4 linked regions of the Homo sapiens genome follow. The protein of the gene in region 4 interacts with the protein of the main gene of each other region in a pairwise test. Each region holds a gene or a part of one and is shown on either strand. Other genes may lie near its edges.

Region 1 (7,709 bases), on a different chromosome or scaffold from region 4:
TCTGTTCCTCAAAGACACTATTAAGAGGTGAAAAACCAAATCATGTTTGTAGATTATACATTATGTAGTATATAGTATAGGTTATATATAAAATATATATTACTTACACACATATATACATATTTATCTGGCAACAAATGAATGGAATCCAGAATATATCCAGAACTACAAATGAATTTCTAAAAAACAAACATCCCACTAAAATTTGGGGGGAAAAGCTGAATATGCACTTCATAAGAGTCATACTCTAATGGCTAATAATCACATCAAATATATCTGGACTCTGACTTTACTCCATTCCATGAGAATTTATTTCTGATGATTGGGAGATCTAGAAGAAAACTTAGAATATTATCATCATGAGTGCAAATTAGTTCAACCATTGTGGAAGACAGTGTGGCGATTCCTCAAGGATCTAGAACCAGAAATACCATCTGACTCAGCAATCCCATCACTGGGTATATACCTAAAGGATTATAAATCATTCTTCTATAAAGACACATGCACACGTATGTTTATCACGGCACTATTCATAACAGCAAAGACTTGGAATCAACCCAAATGCCCATCAATGATAGACTGGATAAAGAAAATGTGGCACATATACACCATGGAATACTTTGCAGCCCTAAAAAAGAATGAGTTCATGTCGTTTGAAGGGACATGTGTCAGCAAGATAACACAGGAACAGAAAACCAAACACCACATGTTCTCACTCATAAGTGGGAGTTGAACAATGAGAACACATGGACACAGGGAGGAGAACATCACACAGTGGGATCTGTTGGGGGAGGGGGGCTGGGGAGGGATAGCATTAGAGAAATACCTAATGTAGATGATGGGTTGATGGGTGCAGCAAACCACCATGGCATGTGTCTACCTATGTAACAAACCTGCACGTTCTGCACATGTATCCCAGAACTTAAAGTATTTTATATATATAAGTATTATATATATAAGTATTATATACATATAAGTATTATATATATAAGTATTATATACATATAAGTATTATATATATAAGTATTATATACATATAAGTATTATATATAAGTATTATATACCTATAAGTATTATATATATAAGTATTATATACATATAAGTATTATATATAAGTATTATATACCTATAAGTATTATATATATAAGTATTATATACATATAAGTATTATATATAAGTATTATATATAAGTATTATATATATAAGTATTATATATAAGTATTATATATATAAGTATTATATATAAGTATTATATATATAAGTATTATATATAAGTATTATATATATAAGTATTATATGTAAGTATTATATATATATAATATATAAGTATTATATATAAGTATTGTATATATAAGTATTATATATATAAGTATTATATATATATAAGTATTATATATATATAAGTATTATATATATAAGTATTATATATATATAAGTATTATATATATATAATAGTAATGGCATTGGGTGATTCAAAGATGTTTCTTAAATAATAAAAAGCACTACCCATAAATAATACACTGACTAATAAAATTAAGAGAATCTGTTCATCTAAAATACATTATTGAGATCGTGTAAAAGCAAAAAAGATTTATAGAAGATACTAAAATTGTATACGTATTTTTATATATGTACATATATGCCTGCGTGCATGTGTATATAACTCAAATACAGAATATATGGAAACTACAAATCCATTTTTAAAATACAAACATCTCAGTAAAAGCTGGAGGAAAATACCTGAAAAGGAACTTCATGAAAGACATAGTTAAATGACCAATAAACACATAAAATGGTGCTCAAAAAAAAAAAAAAACAATAAATAGCTGGGTGTGGTGGCACTGCAATCCAGTCTGGGTGACAGAGGGAGACCTCATCTCAAAAGACAAACAAAAATCAATAAATAAAAACAATTTTTTTAAAAAGGTGCTCAATCTCATTAATCGGCAGAGAAATGCGAGTGTAGACATAAGGAGAGATCACTGCACACCCATCGGAGTGGCTGGAATGAAAGACTAACTGTACAGCGAGTGTTCGAATGTGGCACAGCTGGAACCTTCGAATATTTCTGGACTTCCATTCCCACACAGACACCTGAGGCTGTGGCCGAAAGGTCAGATAGAGTCCCGGTGAAGAGTTCCTTCAGAATTGAGATCAACCCACCGAGGAAAAGCACCCCAACCTGGGTAGAGACAGAGTTCCCAAGGTCACGTGGCCTCCCTCATGGCTGACACAGAGCTCCCTGAGTCCCACCATAGGCTTAGAGAATCCAAGGAACAGCACCCCATTCCCCCGCAGCACCGGGAGAGAGCACCCACCACCAAGACAAAGCATCCGGTAAGCGTCCACATCGCGGATAAGCAGAACCAAAGAAAAGCCAACACATCCTAGCTGAGAGTGAGCGACATCCAAGGGCAAATGTGCCTCACGGACGACATCAGCACCCAAGGAAGAGTCCCTCGCAGGTTGAGATAAAGCCCCCGTCAGCGATCCCACAGGGCGGCGATCATGCGTCTGGGACACAGCCACCCCCACCATGTTCCATGAGAACAGATAGAGTCCCCAAGGCAGAGCCCCCGCTCAGGACTGCGACTGAGTGGGAAAGAAACAGCACCGCACCCGAGGCCGACACAAGCAACCAAGGCATGGCCCCCACCCCCGGGCTCAGGTCATTTCAGTAGGAAAAGTCCCTAGCATCACCGAGACAGAGCCCCCAAGAAAAGCCCCCCGGCCTCACAACATGGCTGAGACGAGGTGCCCAAGGAAAACGCTCCCCCGCGGCTGACACAGGCGCCCATGGCGGTGTCCCCAGAGCTGAGCCACTTCCCCAAGGGAGCCCTACCACACACCAGACAGAGAACACCACAGAAAAGACTCTTTCTGAGGAAAAAGGACACTTTCTGGGGTGAAATTAAAGCATCCAGGGAAAAACTGCCCCACTCACAGTCCTTAAGTCCTGACCTTGCTGGAGGAGAGACAGCAGCACCTCACAAAATGGCAGTGAAGTTGTGGCGCCTCCCCACTGGTGGCACTTTCTAGAAACCTGCCCTCTGGGAGTTGTGGGAAATGTGCCCCCTAGGGCACCTGGGAGTGATGTGCATGGGGAGGCGTCTCACCAGAAGCACCGATCCCGTTTGGTCCAAAGGGGATGGAAGGAAGGGAAGCAGCCAGCCACAGTGTGCTGGCCCAGCCGAACACTGGGAACCTGTTGGGGGCGCCAGAATCCTGAGGTGAAGCCTCGTGCCCCAGAGAACCAGGAAGCGCAGCCCTCCCCTTCGCTGACTGGCGCCCTCTACAGGCGACCTTCAGTAACAACTGCACAGCAACATAAGCAGAGGAACGCAGAACCTTCTCACACAGTGGGATGAAATCGCCTGGGTAACATAGTGAGACCCCGGCTCTACAGAGCAACCAACCAACCAAAAAAAAAAAAAACACACACAAAAATTAGCTGGGCATGGTGGCGGGCGCCTGTGGTCCCAACTACTCGGGAAGTTGAGGTGGGAGGATCGCTGGAACCCAGGAGGCAGAGGTAGCAGAGAGCCGAGAACGCACCACCGTACTCCAGCCTGGCCATAGAGGAGACTCTATCTCAAAAAAAAAAAAGGAAAGAAGAAAGAAAGAAAGAAAGAAAGAAAGAGAGAGAGAGAGAGAGGAAGGAAGGAAGGAGAAAGAAAAGAAAGAAAGAAAGAAAGAAAGAAAGAAAGAAAGAAAAAAAGAAAAGAAAAGAAAAGAAAGAAAGAAAGAAGAAAGAAAGAAAGAAACGACAACATCAACAAACTGAAATCTTCATTGGATGGGGTTGTGTTTTAAAGTCAACCCCAACGGGCGCTGTGGCTCGCGCCTGTAATCTCAGCACTTTGGGAGGCCAAAGCAGCTGGACCACCTGAGGTCAGGAGTTCGGGACCAGCCTGGCCAACATGGTGAATCTCGTCTCAACTAAAAATACAGAAAATTAACCGGGCGTGGGGCGCGCACCTGTAGTCCCAACAGCTACTTGGGAGGCTGAGGCAGGAGAATCACTTGAACTGGGGAAGTGAGGTTGCAGTGAGCTGAGATCACACCACTGCACTCCAGCCTGGGTAACAGAGCGAGACTCTGTCTAAAAATATAAATAAATAAATAAATAAATATAAATTCAACCTCTATCTGTTAAAGGTAACAGTTGTTAATTGATAAGAAAAATGAGGGCCACAGTGTGGTGGCTCATGCCTGTACCCCAGCACTTTGGGAGGCCAAGGTGGGTAGATTCCTTGAGCCCAAGAGTTCAAGAGTGGCCTGGGCAGCATGGTGAAACCCCGTCTGTACACAAGATACAAAAATTAGCTGAAAGTGTACTTGTGGTCCCAGCTACTTGGGAGGCTTGAGACCAGGAGGCTTGAGACTAGGAGTTTGAGGCTGCATTGAGCTTTGATCGCATAGCCTGGGTGACAAAGTGAGACTGTCTAAAAAAAAAAAAAAAAAAAAAAAAAGAAAGAAAAAAAGAAAGGAGGGGAAACCTTATTATATTGCATCTATTAATCATTTTAATCTGGAACTTTGTATATTTTTCCACCTTTTTTATTTTTTTTGAGACAGAGTCTGGCTCTGTCACCTAGGCTGGAGTGCAGTGCCATAATCTCGGCTCACTGCAACCTCCGCCTCCCAGGTTCAAGTGATTCTCCTGCCTCAGCCTCCCCAGAAGTTGGGATTACAGGCATGCACCACCATGCCCGGCTAATTTTTGTATTTTTAGTAGAGACAGTGTTTCACCACATCGGCCAGGCTGGTCTCAAACTCCTGACTTCAAGTGATTCATCTTCCTTGGCCTCCAAAAGTGCTGGGATTACAGGTGTGAGCCACCACGCCCCGCCCATTTTTCCACTTTCATAACTTATTTTAAGTGCAGCAAAATTTACTTGAATTGTTCATAGTGGCAAAAAATATTACAGCGAAAGTTTTGGAGTTTTAATGGAACAAGCAGTTTCACTCTTGACACAATTATTTGGAAGGGATTACTTCACTGGTTTTGTAATTCAAAAGTTATGTTTGTAAAAAAAAAATTAAAAATATAGCCAGGCATGGTGGTGGGCACCTGCAATCCCAGCTACTCGGGAGGCAGAGGCAGGAGAATCACTTGAACCTGGGAGGCACAAGCTTCAGTGAGCAGAGATCGAGCCACTGCACTCCAGCCTGGGCGACAAAGGGAGACTCCGTCTTAAAATAAATAAATTAAAATTAAAATTAAAAATTATGTTTGTTAAGTACCCTGTCAGAAGAGAGTCATTTTCAGTATTATAGCTTCCTAGCCTATTGTATTAATATTTGCCTGTGTTTCAGAACCTTTACAGAACACATTTTCTTTTGGAATATATTTGATTGATAGGAAAGCTTAAACATTGTTTTCACTTCGATGTAGGAACACAGTTGTTTTGTTTGTTTCTTCTAGTGTTATCAAAATGAAATACTCATTTTTGCATTAAAAAAATCCCACCACAGCAGTACTCATATGAGTATTTGATTGAATAACCATGAGACTGGAATCTTGTTGGGGCTTAATTAGAATCCTGCCTACCACACAAGCCACAAGTGGACAGCTGCATGTGACAGTCCTGACTGGGACAGCCCTGAAGGACAGTGATGAAGGGAAATCCTCCCAGAGGGAAGAACTTTGAGCAGTGCACCTTCTTGGAGGAGGCATATCCAGACGTGTAAGTATGTACCATGCATAGGCTGTGTCCCACTCATTCGCTGAATTGTCAGGGACATTGAGGACACATGATTAAAAATTTCTGTCAAGGACGTCTGAGAAAAAAAAACAAATATGTGGACAGACCTTTCCAAGTGGACATACAATGTGAAGATATTGGGGTCTCATGAGAGTTCTCAGCAAAGGGTATCCTCAGCAGAGCAGAATTTAATAATCAGATGGATAAGGTACTTATTATCTACATATTAATTAGCCTCTTTCCCCAACACTTGTGTCACAATCTTATGGGCTCAACAAAGTGGTCAAACTGTCAAGGATGGAGATTATGCGCAGTAGCATGGACTTCCACTCACCATGGCAAACCTGGCTACAGTCATTGCTGAGTGAACAATCTTCCAGGAATGGAGACCAACACTAAGCCCCCAATTTAGCACCAGACTCCAAAATGATCTGCCAGCCACTAGTTGGTATGTGGATTACAATAGATCACTTCTATTGTAAAAAGAGAAGTGCTTTCTTCTTACCTCAACAGACATTTAGTCTAGATATGGATTTTCCTTCCCACTTGCATTGCTTTTGAGAAAACCAATATTTGTATCTTGGCTTCCAAAATTCTGGAAAGCGCTAGTTCCTCAAGTTCCTAGGGTTATTCATTCTGGAGACTCTAGTATACTCTGCAAGAAAACCTGTAGGCCATCCACCAGAATGCCCAAATGGAGTCACTCTTAAATAACAAGCCCTGCATGTTTCCAGAAACTCTATTTATCAGTGACAAGTTTACTATGGCAGCCATTTCGCCACCCAGGACAGTTGGAGAATGGCAGATATTAGGGACCATTAACTCTGTAAAATCTATAGAAGACTGCAGTGAAGAATCACAGTTACAGAACGAAAAGTGACAGTCTTGTATTTTGGATGTTTGTTCAAAGAGGATATACAATTAATAAAGTGGTCAAGGAATAGGTTTCACCTTTAATACTAAAAACTAACATAGAAACTTGTAAAGGTGTCAAAGTGTAGTAATCCTTTTCATGTATATCTGGTTAAGATTTAAAACTGAAGCTTTCTTTTTTAACCTTTTTAAAATTATAAATACCAGAAGGGTACACGTACAGTTTTCTCACTTGGGTATAATTGCATAATGCTGGGGTTTGGGCTTCTAGTGAACCCATCACCCAAATAGTGAAGAGAGCATCCAATAGGTAGTTTTTCAACCCTCCAACCCGCTCCCTCCCTCCCCTCCACTTCCCTTTTGGAGTCCTCAGAGTCAATGGTTTCTACCTTTATGTTCATGTGTACCCATTGTTTAGCTCCCACATATGAATGAGAACATGCAGTATCTCATTTTCTGATTATCTGATTTTGTTTCTGTGTTTCACTTAAAAGTGAAGTTTTCGCCAGACACAGTGGCTCACGCCTGTAATCCCAGGATTTGGGAGGCAGAAGTGGGTGGATCGCTTGAGGTCAGGAGTTCCAGGCAAGGCTGGCCAACATGGCAAAACCACATCTCTACCAAAAATACAAAAAATAGCCGGGGCCTGGCGCGGTGGCTCACGCTTGTAATCCCAGCACTTTGGGAGTCTGAGGTGGGCAGATCACTCGAGGTCAGGAGTTTGAGACTAGCCTGGCCAACATGGTGAAACCCTGTCTCTGCTAAGAAATGCAAACAATTAGCCAGGTGTAACAGTGCATGCCTATAGTCCCAGCTACACAGGAGGCTGAGGCAAGAGAACTGCTTGAACCTGGGAGGTGGAGGTTGCAGTGAGCCGAGATCGGACCATAAACTTAATCAAATTGTTGTTCCAACTGCAGCTGCTGTACTGCAGGTGGTTTTGTTGCGTCAGCAACCGTGACATCCCTGGCAACCTGATATATAATATTAATTAGGTGAATGTTTTGTTTACTTTCAGTAGTTGTCATAAAGAAGAGTTTGGGTCCAGCTAGAAAGGACAGCAATGTACTATCATCTCCTCTTTCAACCTTATATCAACTCTCAAGGTTTATATCCTAAACGAGTCCT
Region 2 (7,662 bases), on a different chromosome or scaffold from region 4:
TGCCGAATAGCTGGGATTACAGGCACCCACCCTGATGCCCAGCTAATTTTTGTATTTTTAGTAGAGACGGGGTTTCACAATGTTGGCCAGGCTGGTCTTGAACTCCTGACCTCAAGTGACCAGCCTGCCTTGGCTTCCCAAAGTGCTGGGATTACAGGTATGAGCCACTATGCCTCACCCAGCCGAGAATTTGGATTATCTCTAGAATTTGTTTGAAGAAGGGTTATTGGTCAATCAATCCTTTGCATTTATCAAAAGATTGCTTTGTAAGTAGCTTGCAGGTACATCTGCTCTCTGCTGTTTCTGAAGAACCTCCCCAAAACCAAAACCATAGTTTTCCTCCACCAGCTCCTATGATACCTAATATATGCTAAACAATAAGCATTTATTAGTGTCTAGTAATTGATGATGGAAAGACTTTCTTGCTAAAAAACAACCTGTCTCAAAGGGGGAAAAAAATCTCTCTAAAATTATCTGCTCAGGAAGCTCAAGACCAAGAACTCAAACATGCTCAGCTCTCAGTCAGAAATTACAGAGATGCAGTCATATGTGGAACTCTGCACTGCTTTTCCCGTAGCAATGCACCTCCTATTACAGAGACTATTTTGGAAAATCCTAAATAACTTGGTTTGTTCCAAGATGTAGCCAAACGCTAGGGCACTGAGGAGTTTCCAGGTCTCAAGACACTTGTGTTCACTCTACCGTGGAGAACTTTAAATAAGAAAGACGGGGAGAAACAGGTTAATCACAGTGTTCTCCTATACTATGAAGGAATCAAAATGGGAACAATGAAGTCCACTTACTTGCATGAATTTCAGACCAACAAGGCGGAATCCTTTCTGCTCAAAACGCTTGATAATCTCTCCCACAAGACCCCGCTGGACCCCATCTGGTTTGATCGCAATGAAGGTACGCTCACAGTTGGCCATGGTTCTGGGGATAGGCAGGTAGAGGAATGAAACAGCAGTGAATCACTTGCCTACAGCGTCATCCGTCTCAAGCGGATTATCCCATAAAGCTGGTTTAAATCTGTCAGGTCAGCTCCAGGTCTCCCTCTGGTAAAAACCCAATTCCTCCCCAGTCCCCTGATCTATGAACTAATATGTCAATGTGGGAAAGGATCCAAAAGCAAGGACTATAATTTCTATCCCATTTGATTTATTTTATTTTCATTTGTTTTGGTTTTTGTGGGGTTTTTTTAGAGATGGGGTTTCGCTATGTTGCCCACGCTGGTCTCGAACTCTTGTCCTCAAGTGATCTGCCCACCTCAGCCTACCAAAGTGCTGGGATTATGGCCATGAGCCACCACACCCAGCCCCATTTGATTTTTTTTTTTTTTTTTGGTATGGAGTCTTGCTCTTTCGCCCAGGATGGAGTGCAGTGGTGCGACCTTGGCTCACTGCAACCTCCACTTCCCAGGCAAGCAATTCTCCTACCTCAACCTCCTAAATAGCTGGGACTACAGGTGCGTGCCACCACACCCAGCTAATTTCTGTATTTTTTTTTACTAGAGATGGGGTTTCACCATGTTGGCCAGGCTGGTCTCCAACTCCTGACCTCAAGTAATCTGCCCACCTCAGCCTCCCAAAGTGCTGGGATTAAAGGCGTGAGCCCCATGAGCCTGGCCACCATTTGATTTAATAAGCTTCTTTTAAACATCTACTGTGTACCAAACACTGCGGTGGAACTAGGATACAGGATGTTAAAAACAAGGCACTATCTTTCTCAATAATCAAGCTTGGGAGAAACTACACTGATGAAAAGTTTTACTAATGTGAAAGTGATGTCCGGTACAAAGCAGTAAGAAATAATAGTTTGACTTAATGCCACAGCCATAGCATTAGGGGTTTTAGAGAATATATCTTTACAACCCCCTTCATTTTACAAATGAGGAAACAGGACCACAGCACCAGAATGAAGGCCAAAACCCAGCATTCCCAACCCATTAATCCATTCTTGTAATGTTATGCTACACTTTACAATGCAAAGAATATTTTGACTAGCCAATAAACGGTGGGGTGTGGGAGAACTACAGACATTAGGAATATCTGATACGGGACATCATACTGAAAGGAAGCCTAGAGAGTAACTATTCCGTCCAGATCCCTCATTTTACAGAAGACTGCGCTCATGACCTACCCTGTATCACAGCTTGAGATAGGAGGCCCCTCGCCTTGAAAGACGATCCCTAAAGTAGACAGTAGCACCATCTCTTGGCCCCATCTTCCTGTCCTTTAGTTAACCTCTTCTTACAGCATCTTAGCACTGTAGTCCAATTTTCTGTTTGTGTGTCTGCCTCCCCTGCACACCAGGCTGACTTAGTCCTGTGTAGAGACTCTATGGTACCTAGCCACAGGGCCTAGCAGTCAATAGGAGCAAAGAAAATCATTTATCACCATTCTGCAACTTCCAAAAAAAAAAAAAGAGAGAGAGACAAAGCCCAAAGACTGCGGAGAATCGCACGATGGGGTGCGGGGCAAGCATAAATTGTCCAGGAGAAAACAGGACTAAAGCGCCAGAAATACACCCTAAAAATGTCCCTCCACATCGGTCCCGGTGACACAACAGTAAGCACTCAGTGCTTGCTGAATGAATGACACACACACCCGTCATTTATTCAGCAAGCACTTACAGAGCGCCAACTCCGTGCCCGGCACTGCTCTCGACAGACACAAATAAGGCACAGCCCTGTCGTCGCGGCCTGACGAGAAAGGCGGCCACCGACAAAGGCGAGTCCACGTGGCGTGGGACGTGCGCCGACCGGTCTGCACTTGTCCACAGGCGCTCCCTGCCCCTCCTCCCATCCGATCCTCCTCGCCGCCTCTTAGAGCTGAACTCATCTCTTCACTAACTCCTCACCTAACCCACTCCCGCGACTACACTCCTTTCTTTTTCCTCTCAGGATCCCGAACACCTCTTACCCTTCCAGCTGCTTAGGTTTGAACTCCGGCTGCAGCCGCCAGCACCCGAAACGCGCCCGGGACCCACGTGGTTCGCAGCACTTGCACGCACGGAACGCTTCTGCGCAGATCCGCTGCCGGAGAGCCCATTTTGCAGAACACCGCTCGCCCACGCTTCCTCTTGGGAGTAGGCAGTCATTCTAGGGAACAACTTTCTGCAGTTTAACTTCCGGCGCTAGCTTTTTCAGACCTTTCCGGTTAGCTGCTTGCTTTCTTCTCTCCACCCCCGGGTTCTCTGACTCACTTCCTTCGTTCGCGAGCAAATTGGCTTCCCGAGAGGTGGCGCTCACACGTTGCGTGAAGTCCAAAGAGTGCCTGACCTAGAAGTAGACTTTTCGCTCCCGCTTTGTGTTTATTCACCTTTTCTAGCCTGTCAAGCAAAAAATTTTGAGTACCTACTACGTGGACGCATTATTCTAGGCCCTAGGGATAAAACAGTATGCTCTCTTGGAGCTTCTGGGAGGGATGGGAGTATAGGAAAACAAGAAGCAAATAAGCAAATTAATATGTAATAGATCGCATTTTGTAAGTGCTGTGAAGAAAAGGCCAGAGAAATCTCTGAGTAAGTGATAATAGAATAGACCTGCATGAAGTGAGGGAGCCAGCCCAGTGATTCTTCGAGAGCCAAGTATTACGGTGGACATCGAGTGGTGGAAAATGCCGTTAGAATAGAGCCAAATCTTATGTTGTGAGATGCTAATACAGATTTTGCACAAGGCATGACATCATCACTAACAAAAAAACATTCCCACTGCTCTAAGGGGAAATGAACGGGGGAAAGGTACAAAAATGGAATCAGGAGCCGTTTCAACAAATGATGCTGGAGCAATTGGACGAATATAGACCCAAAGAACCTCAACCTAAACCTCTCACCTTATACAAAATTTACTCAAAATGAATCATAGATTTAAATGTAAAACAATAAATCACTTATGGGGAAAAAAAAAGTTAAAAAAAATCCTCAGGACCTAGGGCCAGGCAAATAGTTTTTAGACGACACCAAAAGACCAATCTATACAGGGAAAAAGTTGATAAATTGGAACTTACTGAAATTTAAAACTTTTGGCCGAGCGCGGTGGCTCACGCCTGTAATCCCAGCACGCTGGAAAGCAGCGGCGGGAGGATCACTTGAGCTCAGGAATTCGAGACCAGCCCGGGCAACATAGTGAAACCCCGTCTCTACTAAACATACAAAAATGAGCCGGGCGTGGTTGCAGGCGCCTGTAGTCCCAGCTACTCGGGAGGCTGAGGCAGGAGAATCGCTTGAACCCGGGAGGCAGAGGTTGCAGTGAGCCGAGATTGCGCCAGGGCACTCCAGCCTGGGTGACAGAGCGAGACTCGGTCTCAAAAAAATAAAAAATAAATAAAATAAATAAGTAAAATTTCATTATTCTCCTGTTTTCTTTTTTTTCTTTTTGAGACCGAGTATCGCTTTGGCGCCCAGGCCGGAGCGCAGTTGCACGATGTCGGTTCATTGCAAACTCCGCCATCCGGGTTCAAGCGATTCTCGTGACTCAGCTTCCCGCGTAGCTGGGACTACAGGCGTCTGCCACCACGCCCGGTATTTTCTTTTTCTTTTTTTTTTTTTTTTTTTGAGACGGAGCCTTGCCAGGTCGCCCAGGGTGGAGTGCAGTGGTGCGATCTCGGCTCACTGCAACCTCCGCCTCCCGGGTTCAAGCGAATCTCCTGCCCCAGCCTCCCGAGCAGCTGGGATTACAGGTGCCCACCACCACACCCGGCTACTTTTTGTATTTTTAGGAGAGACGGGGTTTCACCATGTTGGCCAGGTTGGTCTCAAACTCTTGACCTCGTGATCCGCCCGCCTCAGCCTCCCAAAGTGCTGAGATTACAGGCATGAGCCACCGCGCCTGGCCCTAATTTTTGTATTTTTAGTAGAGACGGGTTTTCACTATGCTGGCCAGGCTGGTATCGAACTCCTGACCTCAAGTGTTCCATCTGCCTCGGCCTACCAAAGTGCAGGGATTACAGGCATGAGCCACCGTGCTCGGCCTTTATTTATTTATTTGTTTATTTATTTATTGAGATGCAGTCTTGCTCTGTCACCCAGGCTGGAGTGCCTTGGCGGATCTCAGCTCACTGCAACCTCTGCCTCCCACGTTCAAGTGATTCTCCTGCCTCAGCCTCCCGAGTAGCTGGGACTACAGGCGTGCACCACCACGCCCGGCTAATTTTTGTATTTTTAGTAGAGACGGGGTTTCACCATGTTGGCCAGGCTGGTCTCAAACTCCTGACCTCAGGTGATCCGCCCACCTTGGCCTCACAGAGTGCTGGGATTATAGGCGTGAGCCACTGTGCCCTGCAGAAAAGAAATTTAAAACCTTTGTCCTGTGAAAGACCTTTTGAAGAGGACGAAAAAACAAGCTAGAGTGGAAGGAAATATTTCCAAACCACATATCAGATAAAGGCCTTCTCTTCATTTGAAGGTTTGAATATTTGAAGAACTCTGAACGCTCAACAGGTTAAAAAAATCCAATTAGAAAATGGGCAAAAGACATGAATAGACATTTCATTGAACAGGATATACAGAGGCAAGAAAGCACATGAAAAGATGTTCAACATCATTAGCCACCAGGGAAATTCAAACTAAAACCAAAATCGGATATTACTACATGCCTATCAGAATGCTAAAATGAAAGTAGTGATACACCAAACGCTATTAAGGAGGTATAGAAACTGGATCCACATTACTGGTAGGAATATAAAATTGTACAGCCACTCTGAAAAAGTTTGATAGTTTCTTTTTTTTTTTTTTTTTTTTTTTTTGAGACGGAGTTTCGCTCTGTCGCCCAGGCTGGAGTGCAGTGGCGCGATCTCGACTCACTGCAAGCTCCGCCTCCCGGGTTCACGCCATTCTCCTGCCTCAGCCTCCCGTGTAGCTGGGACTACAGGGGCGCGCTACCATGCCCGGCTAATTTTTGTATTTTTAGTAGAGACGGGGTTTCACCGTGTTAGCCAGGATGGTCTCGATCTCCTGACCTCGTGATCCGCCCGTCTCGGCCTCCCAAAGTGCTGGGATTACAGGCGTGAGCCACCGCGCCCGGCCGATAGTTTCTTAAAAAACTAAACATGTGCTTACCATATGACCCAGCCATTGCACTGTTGGGCGTTTATCCAACAGGAATGAAAACTTATGCTCTGTTCACACAAAAACCTGTGCGCAAATGTTCATTGCAGCTTTATTTGTAATAACCAAAAACTGGAAACAACCCAAATGTCTTTCATCATGTGAATGGTTAAACAAACTATGCTACATCCATACTGTGGAATGCTACTCAACAATAGAAAAAAATAACAAACTATTAATACATGCAATATACATAATTCCCTTGGATAGATTTCAAGGGAATTATGCTGACTGAAGAAAAGCCAAACATAAAAAGTTATCTATTGTATTATTGCATTTAACATTTGTGAAATATTAATAACAAAAGTATAGACATAGAGGATAGACTAGTTTAGTGGTTGCCAGGAATTAGAGATGAGGGAAAGGGCCAGGTATGGTGGCTCTCACCTGTAATCCCACCACTTTGGGAGGCTGAGGCAAGAGGATCTCTTGAAGCCAGGAGCTCAAGACCAGCCTACACAGTATAATAAGATACTGTCAGAGGCTTTCGAACCAGAGCAACTCCATCTTAAATAGGGGCTGGGTAAAAAGAGGCTTAGACCTACTGGGCTGCATTCCCAGGAGGCTAGCCATTCTTAGTCACAGGATGAGATAGAAGATCGACACAAGGGCTGGGCACGGTGGCTCATGCCTGTAATCCCAGCACTTTGGGAGGCTGAGGTGGGTGGATTACCTGAGATCAGGAGTTCGAGACCAGCCTGGCCAACGTGGTGAAACTCTGTCTCTACTAAAAATACAAAAATTAGCCCGGCGTGGTGGCGCGCGCCTGTAGTCCCAGGTACTTGGGAGGCTGAGGCAGAATTGTTTGAACCCAGAAGGTAGAGGTTGCAGCGAGCTGAGATCGCACCACTGCACTCCAGCCTGAGCAACAGAACAAACCTCCGCCTCAAAAAAAAAAAAAAAGATCAACATGAGACACAGATTACAAAGACCTTGGTGATCAAACAGTGGTAAAGAAGCCGGTCAAATCCCACCAAAACCAAGATGGCAACAAAAGTGACCTCTGGTCACCCTCACTGCTCATTATATGCTAACTATAATGGATTCACATGCTAAAAGACACTCCCATCAGCACCATGACAGTTTACAGATGCCATGGAAACAACCAGAAGTTACCCTATATGGTCTACAAAGGGGAGGAGCACTCAACTGGGGGAGAGGGGAAATTGCCCATCCCTTTCCCAGAAAACTCACAAACAATCCACCCTTGTTTAGCATATAATCAAGAAATAACCCCTCTGCCTGTAGAGTAGACATTCTTTTATTCCTTTACTTTTTTTTTTTTTTTTTTTTTCAGACGGAGTCTCCCTTTGTTGCCAGGCTGGAGTGCAGTGGCGGGATCTCGGCTCACTGCAACCTCTACCTTCCAGGTTCAAGCAGTTCTCTGCCTCAGCCTCCCGAGTAGCTGGCATTACAGGCACCCGCCACCACGCCCAGCTAATTTTTGTGTTTTTAGTAGAGATGGGGTTTCACCATATTAGCCAGGATGGTCTCGATGTCCTGACCTCGTGATCCACCCACCTCAGCCTCCCAAAGTGCTGGGATTACAGGCATGAG
Region 3 (7,025 bases), on a different chromosome or scaffold from region 4:
GGAGTGCAGTGGCATGATCTTGGCTCACTGCAACCTCTATCCCCTGGGTTCAAGCAATTCTCCTGCTTCAGCCTTCCAAGTAGCTGGGATTACAGACGTGAACCACCACACCTGGCTAATTTTTATATTTTTAGCAGAGACGAGGTTTCACCATGTTAGCCAGGCTGGTCTCGAGCTACTGAGCTCAAGTGATCCCCCCACCTCGGCCTCCCAAACTGCTGGGATTACAGGAGTGAGCCAGCACACCCACCCCAAAATCTGCATTTTAACAAGCCTCTCCAGGAGAATAATTTCCACATTAAAGTTTTAAAACCATTTGCTTAAATAATCTTAGATTATTTCTTCCTGTATTTTAAAAACCTGCTTATGGCTTCAGACTTTGGGAAATAAGGTGTACTTGGTTGGCTTATTAAGAAAAAAAAAGAATTTTAAGATGGTTTTGTGTCCTTTCCCCAGCACCAATCTCCCCCAGATAATCAACTTCTCAAGAGAAAAAAACAGTTTAAAAAAATTATTAAATTCATATTATTTACAGGTGCTTTCATTTCATTAAACCATGATAGAAAACCTTATAAAAACCTTATATCCCCCAAATTACAGATTTTTTAAAAACTGAGTTCAAAAGAGTTAAGGGGAAAGCCGACATTGGTGTCTAAGTTTACAGTTTTTGCTTCTTGAAGCAGGATCTTCATGCTTACACCTATTTCCTAGTAGGTAGCACAGGGCCTGGCACACAGTAAACAATCAACTCATCTTGCATTTAATAATTTTTTCACATCCTGTTTCAACAACAGAAACTTCTTTTTGCTTAATCAAGAGCATTTCATCCTGATTTAAAGAAGTGATATTCACAGTGCGCTGCCCATGCCGACCTTGCTAAGCTTGCTCCACACACCCTCCTATGCCCACCATGACCACTGTTCAGCAGATGGAAGATGATGCCTAGTGGACAGCAAAGGCCTTGATGAATACGTGAAGGAACTAGGAGTGGGAATAGCTTTGTGAAAAATGGGCACAATGGCCAAGCCAGAGTGTATCATCATTTGTGATGACAAAAACCTCACCATAAAAACTCAGAGCACTTAGAAAACAGCACAGTTTTCTCGTACCCTGGGAGAGAAGTTTGAAGAAACTACAGCTCATAGCAAAAAAACTCAGACTCTCTACAACTTTACAGATGGATCATTGGTTCAGCATCAGGAGTGGGATGGGAAGAAAAGCACAATAACAAGAAAATTGAAAGATGGGAAATTCATGGTAGACTGTGTCATGAACAATGTCACCTGTTCTCAGATCTATAAAAAAGTAGAATAAAAATTTCATCATCACTTTGGACAGGAAATAGCTATGAAAATCAACAAGCTCAGTTCAATGGGCAAATCTCCATACTGCTTCTTTTTTTTCATTACTGTGTTCAATTATCTTTATCACAAACATTTTACATGCAGCTGTTTCAGTATCAGATTAATTAGGATCATCCCTTTGGTTAATAAATAAATGTGTTTGTGCTAAAAAATAAAAAATAAAAAAATTAAGAAGTGATATTAACATAACCTACAAAGGATCAACTTTGGAAAATTAAATAAAGCCATGGAAAGGCAAATAAATCCTCCTCCCTTCCATCTTAGCTTATGCAGTAATTATTTATATACATATATTTATATTTATATATTTATATTTATGCATATATAAAACAAAACCAAAAAACTTGAAGTTAAGACAAAGCTTTTCCTTAGAAGTCCTCTTCTAAGGGGTTGGTTCAGGTGCTTTTCAAAGGGATAGCAGCAACTGATTTTTTTTTTTCTGCAAATTACACTGTGTTGAGTTAGGTGACCAACAATTTAAGGTAGGATTGATTTGGAGTTGCTGTCACCTATAGATAAGGCTTTCATGTAACACTTATAGTTTTGTAAATGTAATAATATGTCTTATGAAAAGAACAGTGTTTGATGGAGGACAATGAATAAGGTCTCCCACTTTTGCTATTATGATAGCAACGCCTAATATCTAATGTCCTTATCAAATAAATCACTGCAACTGGATATAATTAAGCTAACTAGATGTTTGGCAATTTTGTTTTCAATAAATGGCCCATTATATTCTATCAGAAGATCATTTCCAACTATCTTAGCTTTTAATTTATTATTTTTGAGTAGACTGAAGAATCATGGTAAGGACATATGTATATTGTCTACAATATATCTTAAAGTAATAGAACAAATTTTGATTCAGGGCAAACTGCATGCTATGACAACAGAATAAAAGGCAGGTAAAAATAAAAATAGACAAATAAAATGCAGTTTAGTCAACCCAATGTTTCAGTACCATTAAAATGTGTAAGCTTTTGTCATGAATTAGTTTTTAAAAATCTAAAAGAGTTGTCTTGTGGATTATAGTGCTGGGACTTAAACTGCATTTGCAGTAGGACTATTTTATTATTTCTTCAAACAGGAAACCACTGGCAATTCAGTGTGAAGTCATTTTCTATTTTTAAAATAATTGAATCTGAGACATAACTATTAGTATGACAGTTTCACAGAGCAAAAAATAAGATGAATAAGTGGGTCTGAAATGCTGGCTAATGGAGCAATACATTTCAAAATTACATATACATTTATGTGCTTCTCCGACCACTTACAGTTTCATTCATCATATCGTTTTTTGGCCATTTCCTAGAGAGTATTTCCAATTCTAATGTATTTCTAACAGAAATTTCATGCTGTGATCACTCCTTTGTAAGGTAGAGTTCTGTAATATTTCTGGTTTACATGAGCAGACTTTCTAGTAGGTATATGATGGCTGACTAAATATATTAATACTTTTATTTAGTCAGTAATCTGGATGTAAGGCACATAAATACCCCATATAAACAGGGAGCAGGCAGAAGCTTCCATCCTTCTTACAAGGCTGTGTGGCCTTCAGCAAGTCACTTAACTTACCTGAACCCTGAGTATTCCCATCTGAAAAAATAGGTTAAATTAGATTATCTGTTATAGTGCCTTTTTAATTTTATGTCTTATATTAACTATTTCTTAACTATATTTAATTTGAGCCAAGTAGGAATTAATGAAGAAAAATCTGAATTAAAGAATGTATTTTTAAAGAAATGTAATTTTTAAGTATTTTTTTTTCCTTCGAGATAGGGCCTTGCTCTGTTGGCCAGGCTGGAGTGCAGTAGTGTGATCACAGCTCACTGCAGCCTCGACCTCCCAGGCCCAAGCTATCCTCTGGCTTAGCCTTCTAAGTAGCTAGGATCACAGGTGTGCACCACCACACTCGGCTGATTTTTAGAATTTTTTGTAGAGATGAACTCTCTCTGTGTTGCCCAGGCTGGTCTCAAACTCCTGGGCTCAAGCAATCCTCCCACCTCTTCCTTCCAAAATGCTAGGATTATAGGTGTGTGCCACCGCATTCAGCCCAAGTTTTAAACTTTAAAATTGCATAGGACCTGGAACTGGGTAAACAAATTAATGTCATTTGTATGTAAACAGATGTTTTAAAAATATATAACCATGCTCTAAAGTAGTTTTAAATTTTCTTCCTAATTTTGTTTATAAGGTTTTTATAGTAAAATCTTTGTAATACAAAAATAACATTTTCTAGGCAGGTGCGGTGGCTCACACCTGTAACCCAGCACTTTGGGAGGTGAAGGCTGGTGGATCACTTGAGCTCAGGAGTTCGAGACCAGCCTGGCCAACATGGCAAAACCCCATCTCTACTAAAAATACAAAAATAAGCTGGGCGTGGTGGCGCACACCTGAAATCTCAGCTACTCGAGAGGCTAAGGCAGGAGAATCGCTTGAATCCAGGAGGCAGAGACTGCAGTGAGCTGAGATCGTGCCACTGCACTCCAGCCTGGGCAACAGAGCAAGACTCTGTCTCAAAAAAACAAACAAACATTATTTATAAAATCTCCTCACTATGTCATTACAGAACTTAGCAAATTGGTAGTAAAACTTCTGTGGAAGAATAGCCAGCAGATAAATGTTTTAAAAGTACAGATGGTTAGCTTGCCCTATTAGATTAAAACTCACAGTTATCGAAAACATGAATTATAGAAATCAGAACAGCATCTGATTGTGGGAGGATTGACTGGGAAAGGACATACAGGAACTTTTTAGAGTGATAAAAATATTCAGTATCTTAATCTAAAAGTGCATACATAAAGGTGCTCACTTTGTAAAATGTTATCAAGCTAAAGACAAATTAATGTACTTAATAGAGTATGTTATATATCAACTTTTTAAAAAGGTTTTAAAAGTTGGATCCACCGATAGTTTTTTCAAAAAGAATTTCAATTCCTTTATTAATTGAAAGCTAAATAAATTCCAAGATCCATCTGCAATGTAGGAAGTAACTTATGCTCTAACTATGATACTCAAAAAGAAGAGAAATGAGTGGGAAAACAAAACAAAACATATGGCTGAGTTTTGTGTAGTGTTATGTGAGGTAATTTCCTGTTATTTCTCAGGGTTTTTGGAATTGGATTTGTGTTTCCTTTGGATGCCACACTATGCTGTGATGGATATTCAGACTGAGCAAATCAACCCTATTATGTTCTGGTTATCCAATAGATTATAAGCTTCTAGAAAAGAGAACATTTTTTTCATGTATATTTTTGTATCCTCCAATGCTAATGGACAAGTTTTTAGTACTTAATTGGCACTCAATTTGTTAAATTGGATTTCAAATATGTAGGATAAAAAATTAGCATCAAAAATGTATTTTAAAAGGAAATATATCAAAATTTGATAGAAAAATAAGACTTGATGAGTGATCACATTAGTTAAGTGGTCGAGTATACCAGCTAGATATATACTGTGAATCATCACATAGAATAATGAAGCATCAGTGGAAATTTTTTAAAATGAAAATTAAAATAACTGTAGTTATAAATGACAAATAAAAGAATAGTGTTGGCTGGGTGCGGTGGCTCATGCCTGCAATCCCAGCACTTTGGGAGGCCGAAGTGGGCAGATCTCTTGAGCCCAGGAGTTCAAGACCAGCCTGGGCAATATGGTGAAACCTCATCTCTACAAAAATACAAAAATTAACCAGGAGTGATGGTACACACCTATAGTCCCAGCCACTTGGGAGGCTGAGGTGGGAGGATCACCTGAGCCCAGGGAGGTCAAGGCTGCAGTAAGCCATAATCGTGCCACTGCACTCTAGCCTGGGTGACAGAGTGAGACCCTCCCTCAAAAGAAAAAAAAAAGAGTAGTGTTATGCCTATGCCAAGAGAAAGCAAAATTTTATTTATTTATTTATTTATTTATTTATTTATTTATTTATTTATTTATTTGAGACAGAGTATCACTCTGTTGCCCAGGCTGGAGTGCCATGGTGCAATCTTGGCTCACTGCAACCTCTGCCTTCTGAGTTCAAGCAATTCTCATGCCTCAGCCTCTTGAGTAGCTGGGATTACACGGGTATGCCACCACTCCCAGCTAATTTTTGTATTTTTAGTAGAGATGGGGCTTCACCATGTTGGTCAGGCTGGTCTCAAACCCCTGACCTTAAGTGATCCACCTGCCTCGGCCTCCCAGGTGCTGGGATCACAGGGTGTGAGCCACCACGTCCAGCCAAAATTTCACTTTAAAATTAAATTAGAAATCAATAAAAATCCTATGAAACTCTTAAAAGTGCTCTAAAGTAACTCTCAGAATTGCTGCGAAATTCCTCAGTATTTTCTCATCCTCTACATGGTTTTTTTTACATTATTGACATCCAAAATAATTTCTAAATGATTTCTCATGATATTTTGTTGTCATATTAATTATTAATAGTGACAAGATATTTTTCTTGTTTTTATCACAATTACACAATATTTGCATGGATTAAATCAATCTTTTGTTTGCCTAGCCTGGGTACTTCACTTAAACTAATGTTTTTATGAAAACACGGACTTTATATTAAAAACAGTTCCAAACATGGAGGAAAGAGCTCCAAGCTCCAATAGGTTAGAAAGGTGGTAAGTGATGGGCCTTATAGGAGTTAAAATTATTATTCTTGAACAGCTCAAAAGTTTGATTTCTGTGAACTGACTGCAGTACCATCTAAGACATAAGCATCCCTAAAGAGTTGAACTTGGCTATAATCAAGCCTCTAGAGCCAAATTCAGTTTACAGAGAATAAAGGAACAAGTTAAATGATATGAGAAGGAAGTAATTGACAAATTCGGAACGTTGGACATTTCTGCTGCATAACTGATCCAGTTTCTGCAACAAGTAAATGGCAGGGAAAAAAGAAGGGAAGACTGCACCAGTTTAAAATAGACAAAAAGAGAAAACACAACTGAATGCAATGTGTGTTGGATCCTTATTCTCAAAATCAACTGTAAAAATACATTTTAGAGACAATCAGGAAAATTTTGTTATGGAGTTGTTAATTACATGATGCCAAATGATAGTTATTAATTTTGTTAGGTGCAGTCACGGCAATGTGACTATGTAAGAATATGTTCATATTTTTTCAGATGCACAATAAAATATGTAAGTGAAATAATATGATATCTGGGCTTAAAATATTTTTACAAGAAAAATACGAGAGATGTGAGTCAAATGTGGCAAAATTTTGATAAATGTTGAATATGGGTGACAGGTAAGTGGGAGTTCATTGGCGTGTGTTTTAAAATAGTCACAATAAAATTTGTAAAAGGCAAAAGCAAAAAAGGATTCATATCTACTTCTTTGAAGTAATAAAAATGATTTTAAAAAATATTGATGGGGGCCGGTTGTGGTGGCTCATGCCTGTAATCCCAGCACTTTGGGAGGCTGAGGCGGGCAGATCACCGGAGGTCAGGAGTTTGAGACCAGCCTGGCCAACATGGTGAAACCCCATCTCTACTAAAAATACAAAAAATTAGTGGGCATGGTGGCTCACGTCTGTAATTCCAGCTACTTAGGAGGCTGAGGCACGAGAATCACTTGAACCCTGGAGGGAGAGACTGCAGTGAGCTGAGATCATACCACTGCACTCCAGCCTGAGCAACAGAGGGAGACTGTCTCAAAAAAAAAAATTGTTGG
Region 4 (7,025 bases):
CAGGCTGAACTAATCTCTTTATACAAGAAGTATTTTAATTATTACAAAAACAAAGGAGGCAGGTACTAGAAATTCTGCATTTCATAGAAGAGTAAAACTTTGTTAGAGATATTTTCATGATCATCTACCTGCAGACACCATTCATTTAAAAAGTCCTAGTCAAGACCATTAAGCAGCTGCATCTTCTACAACATTGAAAAAAAATCCCTAGAGATTTAAAAAACTGAAGAATTTCACTATCTTTAAAAGATATTATATTTTAGTACATAAAGCTATTAAATTTCTCTGTGTCAAGAGCAAAACATTACCCCTTACCTTGCTTCATCATTGGAAGGTGGACACCTGATCCAGCAATACTCATTAACTGCTAGGTAGATGACCCATGTTGATGGCAGTAAAGCCATTTTACAATGAACTTATGAAGTAGTAACACTAGCCAAACACACAGAGACACAAATACCAAAAATGATGTGTTTAGTATACACAAATAGCTATACTTGGGGCATGGCTATCAAGTAACAAGACTGATTTAATACTTTACAGTTACAGCACATTAAAAATATATTGCCAGAGGGATAATGGTCCCAAATACGAAAAATGTCTATATGGAAAAGGCTGTGATTTATTGCAAAGCATAATATATAGCAAATTCCAAGGAAGGGCAAACACGTTTTAAAAACAAATTTTTAAATTTAACGGCTTAAGCCAAAGTCTCAGTTACTTTCTGGAGAATTCAGAACTATTAGGTGTAGAAGAATGCTTTTCCTTTTTTCTCTTCTTTTTTTCCTTTTTGTGATGTTTCCCTTTTTTTGATTTACTCTTTTTTTCTTTTTTCTTTTCTTTCTTCTGATATTTTTGTTTCTTTTGTTTTGAAGTGTCCTCTTCAGTGGAACTGGATGAGTAAGACCTATGGATAATAATACATACTGACTGAGAATTGCATTTATGACTGATAGATAAATTTAAGTGGGATTTGAACTGCCTTAAATTCTTCTTGGAGTAAGGTAGGGAGTATAAACATAAACTTAAAAAATGCTTCATATATTTGCATTCCCTTAAAACGATGAATTTAGAATTTTTGCTGCTTGGTCACAGAAACCAACAAAACTAGTATCTATTCCACTCAATACTAATGTAATGAGTTTTAAAGTCAATAAGGATGAAATTATTTTTCTGTGATTTTTGGTTTTTCATGCAGTCATATCATTCAAAATCCTAAAAGGCAAACAAAGGGGCATTCACCAAGCCTTATTATATTCACTTGTGTATACAATAACTTCGCATATTTTCTTAAAAGTGTCTCAAAAGTTGCAATTCTCTATTTTAAAGGGCTATAATTGTACGTTCATATGAATGAATGAAAGCTGAAAGTTAGCAAAATAAAAGCACTTTTGGTAATTCTTCTGATTTTTCAAGTACTTGATCCCTCTAGACGGAGAGTGATACAGATGAATACTTGCATTACAAAATAATTTTCATTAGTTACAAAAGGATGCTTTTATGCTATATATAAATGAAAAAGGATGGGTTATCATTGTGCTTTTGAAAAATATTACTCTAATACTAAATTGAAAAAATTGGTTCAATTCCTTCCTCTAATATTCATAAAAAAAAGGAAAAGAAAAAGAAAAAAACAGAAAACCCTATCTTTTAAGATCTTACTTAAAGAGATGTGCAACATTCTACCTATACTCAAACTCAAAATATGAGTGACAAGACAGAAACTGAGTTAATTTAAAATGTAAACAAAGGTATCTAAAGAGTTAGTTTAGTGATCTAAATATTAGGAGTTAAAACTCAAACTAAGAAAATCTGAGACGGATATAAAGGAGGTGCCAATGTAAATTCAGGAGACTACAGGGCTCCAAGGCTATTTTGTGTCTGTATAGTGTGTGAATTCCTTGACTGCCTTCCTCCTTTAGTGACTCCGAGTTTTCCCTTATTTTTGTAATGTTGTGTTCCTTTTTCCTCCTTGTTTGTCTACTTACTTAGACTTCCAATCATCTGTTAAAGCTTATTTTCTCATGTATTCTCCTGCACCCTTGCCTCTTCAGTTGTTATTCTCAAATCTTGTCTATTTTCCTCTTTTAAAGACCCTGTTTGACTTGACCTCTGGATTCTGACTAAAGCTTCTTCCCTGCCTGCACTTTTTTCTTTAGCTTTTTGGTCCTGAAGTTTTTTTTTTTGTTTGTTTCTTTTTTTTTTTTTTTTTTCTGAGACAGAGTTTCACTCTTGTTGCCCAGGCTGGAGTGCAATGGCGTGATCTCGGCTCACTGCAACCTCCGCTCCCCCGAGTTCAAGCAATTCTCCTGCCTCAGCCTCCCAAGTAGCTGGGATTACAGGTACCCACCTGTAATCCACCAGCTAATTTTTTTTGTATTTTTAGTAGAGATGGGGTTTCACTGTGTTGGCCAGGCTGGTCTCAAACTCCAGACCTCAGGTGATCGACCCACCTTAGCCTCCCAAAGTGCTGGGATTATAGGAGTGAGCCACCGTGCCTGGCCTGAAGTCTCCTTTTTAAGGCAAAATTTCAGGCTGTGGCATAGCAACACTTTCAGGGGGCACTATCTCTGCTAAGTGTGCACAGAAAAGTTAATTTAATTTCAGGTTTGTGATGCTCAAGGTAAAGAGGCCCAAATAAATAATCTGTTACTATAAAAAATATTTGGGAGGCTGAGGCAGGCGGATCACAAGGTCAGGAGATTGAGACCATCCTGGCTAACACGGTGAAACCCTGTCTGTACTAAAAATACAAAAAAATTAGTCGGGCATGGTGGTGGGCACCTGTAGTCCCAGCTACTGGGGAGGCTGAGGCAGGAGAATGGAGTGAACCCGGGAGGCGGAGCTTGAAGTGAGCTGAGACTGTGCCACTGGACTCCAGCCTGGGCAACAGAGCGAGACTCTGTCTCAAAAAAAAAAAAAAAAAAGAAATATACAGATGTACTTCAACTTATGATGGAGTTACGCCTTGATAAATCTATCTGAAGCTGAAAATACACAAAATACAGCTAACCTACTGAACATCATAGCTTAACGTGGCTGCCCTTAAATATGCTCAGAACACTTACATTAGCCTCTAGTTGGGCAAAATCATCTAACACAAAGCCTATTTTATAATAAAGCATTGAATATCTCATGTAATTTATTGAATACTGTCCTGAAAGTGAAAAATAGAATGGTTGTATGGGTACTTGAAGTACATTTCTACTGCACCATCATAAAGTTGAAAGATCATATCAAACCACATAAATTGGGAACTATCTGTATTAGAATTTGGAAGACTATCAGATATCATTTCCTGTGAGCAATCCATCTTCCTGTGCTAGAATAAATGATTTAATAATACATTAACAGAAAACCCTGAGCTCTAAATTCCTATTTGTTTTTATATTAAAGATTATTAGTTAACTCCTAACGCTTGAAAGTGGGCTACTTTTCCAATTTATAAGATACCTGAAATATTAAAATACATGTATTAAATGCTCTATAAAAACTACAAAGTGGCAGCCCCTGGTTTCTACAACCTATTCTGTATGAGAACTGGGTCTAAACTAGAAATAATTATGGTTAAGTGCTTTTAAAAAATGCCTGTATGTGCAAATTTATGCTAGTATGAATGAAACTGCACGCATTAACAAGAGAAGTGGCCACTTACTACTTTCAATAACTTCTTTAACCAGTTAGTTTTTAAAAGAGTTAATAGTAAAAATGCACAGGTGGCCGAAGACTGGAAGGAAGTTGTGATGCTAAAAATTCCTTCAGGTCTTTCACAACCCTCATCAGCCACCATATATATATATATATATGAAACTGTCAGGCTAAATACATATAAATACAAAGGTGTGTGTATGTGCATATAATTACATATATATATATATATATATATATTTTTTTTTTTTTGGTGGGCGGGGGGCAGATAGGGTCTTGCTGTGTTGCCCAGGCTGGAGTACAGTGGTGTGATCATGTCTCCTGGGCTCAAGCAATCCTCTCACCTCAGCCTTCCACATAGCTGGGAACACAGGTACATGCCACCACACTTGGATAATTTTTCTTTTACTTTTTGCAGAGATGAGGTCTCCCTATGTTGCCCAAGCCTGTCTCAAACTTCTGGGCTCAAGCCATTCTCCTGCCTTGACCTCTCAAAGTGCTGGGATTATAGGCATGAGCCATCGCACCTGGACAGCATGACAAGTTCTATTAAATTCTATTAATAAGTTAATTTATTAGCCATGGTAATATTACAAGAATACAAATATTTTAGTCAATTTCATGTATATGAAGACAAAATATATATTAAGAGTTTAAACTTAAGCTCAATGAAAAGCTTAGTTGTTGAAGAAAAAATATTAAATTAACTATTATACACAAAAAATAAAATTTTATAATCCATCCTAAACTCATAGGCCTGCTTTGTTTTTTAAAATGTTGTTCAAAAAATACCTTTTCCTTTTTTTTTTCAATTTGATTTTTTCTTTGCTTTTTTCTTTCTTCTTTTCCTCTTCTTCATTTATTCCTGTGGGGGAGAGGTGAGAAGAAAAAAATCTGGTTAATATATGATTCTATATATTAATATGGCATGTATATATGTTAAAATTTTAGCTGTTGGTGAATTTCACTGGTTAGGATAATTTTTGTAATAATTTTCCCCTTTCTTAATTATCTTTATCCATTAAAAAACTCATAAAAGTATTAAATGTTTTTTATAAACATTTCAAATACTAAGTCCATCAAGTAAAAAAATGCAAGTACCCCACCTCTAATTCCCATAGGAAATCAAGGCCAGTGGTTTGATGGGTATTGTTTGGCCCTTAAAAAGCAGAACACTACAACAGTGCACAGTTTTAAAATTTTATTTTGCAACAAAATTAGGATCATGCAATATGTATTATTCTCTAACTTGTTTTTTAAATACACTATTTGGTGTGTATTCTTGTAGGCATTCTTTATATAAAACCAAATACACACACATTTACTCATACACACATAGTTGCATATAAGTTCCAAGTATTTTTTGCCTTTGAAAAATGTACTGTCACATATATTTTGCAGCTTTTTTTTCACTTAACATAGCAGATATTTATCTTTGTCATTAAATATATATCATTATTAAACACAGAAGTGTTCCCATTAACCATATTTTATCAATTTCTACTTTCATTGTTAGAAACAATAAGCAATGGAAATCTTTGTACATATAAGAAGTATTTCTGGGTGACAGAACTTGTGTATATTTAAAGAAAAAGCAGGCTGGGCGCGGTGGCTCATGCCTGTAATCCCAGCACTTTGGGAGGCGAGGCGGGTGGATCATGAGGTCAGAAATTCGAGACTAGGCTGGACAACATGGTGAAACCCCATTTCTACTAAAAATACAAAAAATTAGCCAGGCGTGGCGGCAGGAGCCTGTACTCCCAGCTACTCGGGAGGAAGCCTTGGGGTTATTTGGCAAGGTAAAGAATAGACATCAGTTTGTCTCATAAAATCCTAGGAGATTTTTATTGACCACGCTTTCATTTATTCAACAAATATTTACTAAATGCTTATGTGTCAAGTACTGTGCTATGTACTGGGTCTTTGCTGTGCATGATCCTTGCCCACAGGGAACTTATAGTTAAGTGGTGAGAAAGAAAATTAACAGGCAAAGATAGCATTCTAAGTGAACAGCAAGGGTAGTGCATGTCAGGAAGAGGAAATTAGTGCCAAAGCTCCAAGGCAAAAAGAGTTTGGTGCGTTCTAGAAACTAAGAAGAGGTTGTTGCGGATAGAAGGGGAGGGGCAACTATGAATAAGAATGAACATGAATGAGAACAGATGAACAATATCATAAATACATGTAGAATACCATGAAATGAGAGGCCAGAGAGGTAAGCAGGAACTTGCTTATTCAAGACCATGAAGGCAACAGTAAGGATTTTACATTCTAAGTGAGACGGACTGTGTGATCGGCAGACTTACAAGGTAAATGAATTGGAAAGGGCTAAGGGGAAAAGGCAGGGGAATAATAAAGTAACTGGAGTAGTGCAGGCCAGAGATGGTGTCCTGAGGTGATATGTGTGTGCGAAGGATGATGGAACGAAAGGAATCAAGGATGACCACCAGGTTTTTAGCAGTGCCACTGATTAAAATGTGGATTGGTGGGAAGTGGGTAGGAGCCTGAAGGACAATTGTGGGTGGGAAGTAAAGATTTCAATTTTAGACATTTGAGATCTAAAAGACCTGTTTGACATCCAAGTAGGTAACTGAAGTAGGTAGTTTGGTATGTGATTCTGAAGTTTAGAGATTAGTCTGGACACACACACTGATCAGCTTATAGATAGTATTTAAAACTATGGGGAATAAATAAAATCATTTAGTAAGAGAATGATGAGAAAAAAATACAGGGAGTAAAGCCCAGGAAGATTATCTGCATCTTGAGGAACTCCAACATTTACGGGCTGAGAAGAGCAAGAAGAAGAGCTGTCAAAAAGACTGACAAAGAAGGGCCACGGGGTTGGAAGAATACCAGAACCAAGAAGTAGGAATGTTGAAGAGAGGGGCTACCTATCAAATAGTACCTAAAGGCCAAGTAGAATGTGGATATAAAAACGCCAAATAAATTTGGCAAAAAGTATTTAAAGACCTTGACAAGTGGACTGAAAAACAAATGGAAATAAAAAGGTAGAGAAAGTAAGAATAAATAACTTTGATGAGAAGTTTAGCTAGAAAGCAGCAGAGAAATGGAATGTTAGCTACAGGGATGCAAAGGATCTAGGGAAGAACAATGGGAAAAACGAAAAAAAATTGATGCTGATTGAAATGATGACGCAGAGAGGGGATAACTGAAGGAATAAAATTCTTGAAGAAAAGAATTCATAGCAATTATGGTAGGACATGCCTTCGAAAGGAAGGACAGTCCTTCCATTTTAACTGAAGGAAAGAAAAGAAAGATGGATATATATATATGCAAATTTGTGGATTCAGTAATTGGAAGCTAAGATGCTCTCATTTGGTGTCTTCTATTTTGTCAATGAAAGAGGGAGTCATTAGCCG

Evidence for each region.
Region 1: the proteins of SREK1IP1 (region 4) and CT45A1 interact in binary tests that used the Homo sapiens proteins (3 or more experiments, as listed by UniProt).
Region 2: the proteins of SREK1IP1 (region 4) and NME1 interact in binary tests that used the Homo sapiens proteins (3 or more experiments, as listed by UniProt).
Region 3: the proteins of SREK1IP1 (region 4) and SPMIP2 interact in binary tests that used the Homo sapiens proteins (3 or more experiments, as listed by UniProt).

The regions. Positions count from the first base shown.
Region 1 is NC_000023.11:135,708,943-135,716,651, reverse strand, and holds the start of CT45A1 (cancer/testis antigen family 45 member A1), read right to left. Parts: upstream 3,014-7,709; 5' UTR 2,962-3,013; exon of another isoform or gene 2,945-2,961; intron 1-2,944.
Region 2 is NC_000017.11:51,148,922-51,156,583, reverse strand, and holds the start of NME1 (nucleoside diphosphate kinase A), read right to left. Parts: upstream 3,026-7,662; 5' UTR 2,922-3,025; intron 2,360-2,921; exon of another isoform or gene 2,211-2,359; coding exon of another isoform or gene 2,140-2,210; intron 934-2,139; coding exon of another isoform or gene 930-933; coding exon 804-929; intron 1-803. Other genes in the region: NME1-NME2 protein, read right to left, coding at 804-929. UniProt on the Homo sapiens protein: Major role in the synthesis of nucleoside triphosphates other than ATP. The ATP gamma phosphate is transferred to the NDP beta phosphate via a ping-pong mechanism, using a phosphorylated active-site intermediate.
Region 3 is NC_000004.12:159,025,213-159,032,237, forward strand, and holds part of SPMIP2 (protein SPMIP2), read right to left. Parts: intron 1,513-7,025; exon of another isoform or gene 851-1,512; intron 1-850.
Region 4 is NC_000005.10:64,723,667-64,730,691, forward strand, and holds part of SREK1IP1 (protein SREK1IP1), read right to left. Parts: intron 4,514-7,025; coding exon 4,441-4,513; intron 908-4,440; coding exon 718-907; 3' UTR 1-717. UniProt on the Homo sapiens protein: Possible splicing regulator involved in the control of cellular survival.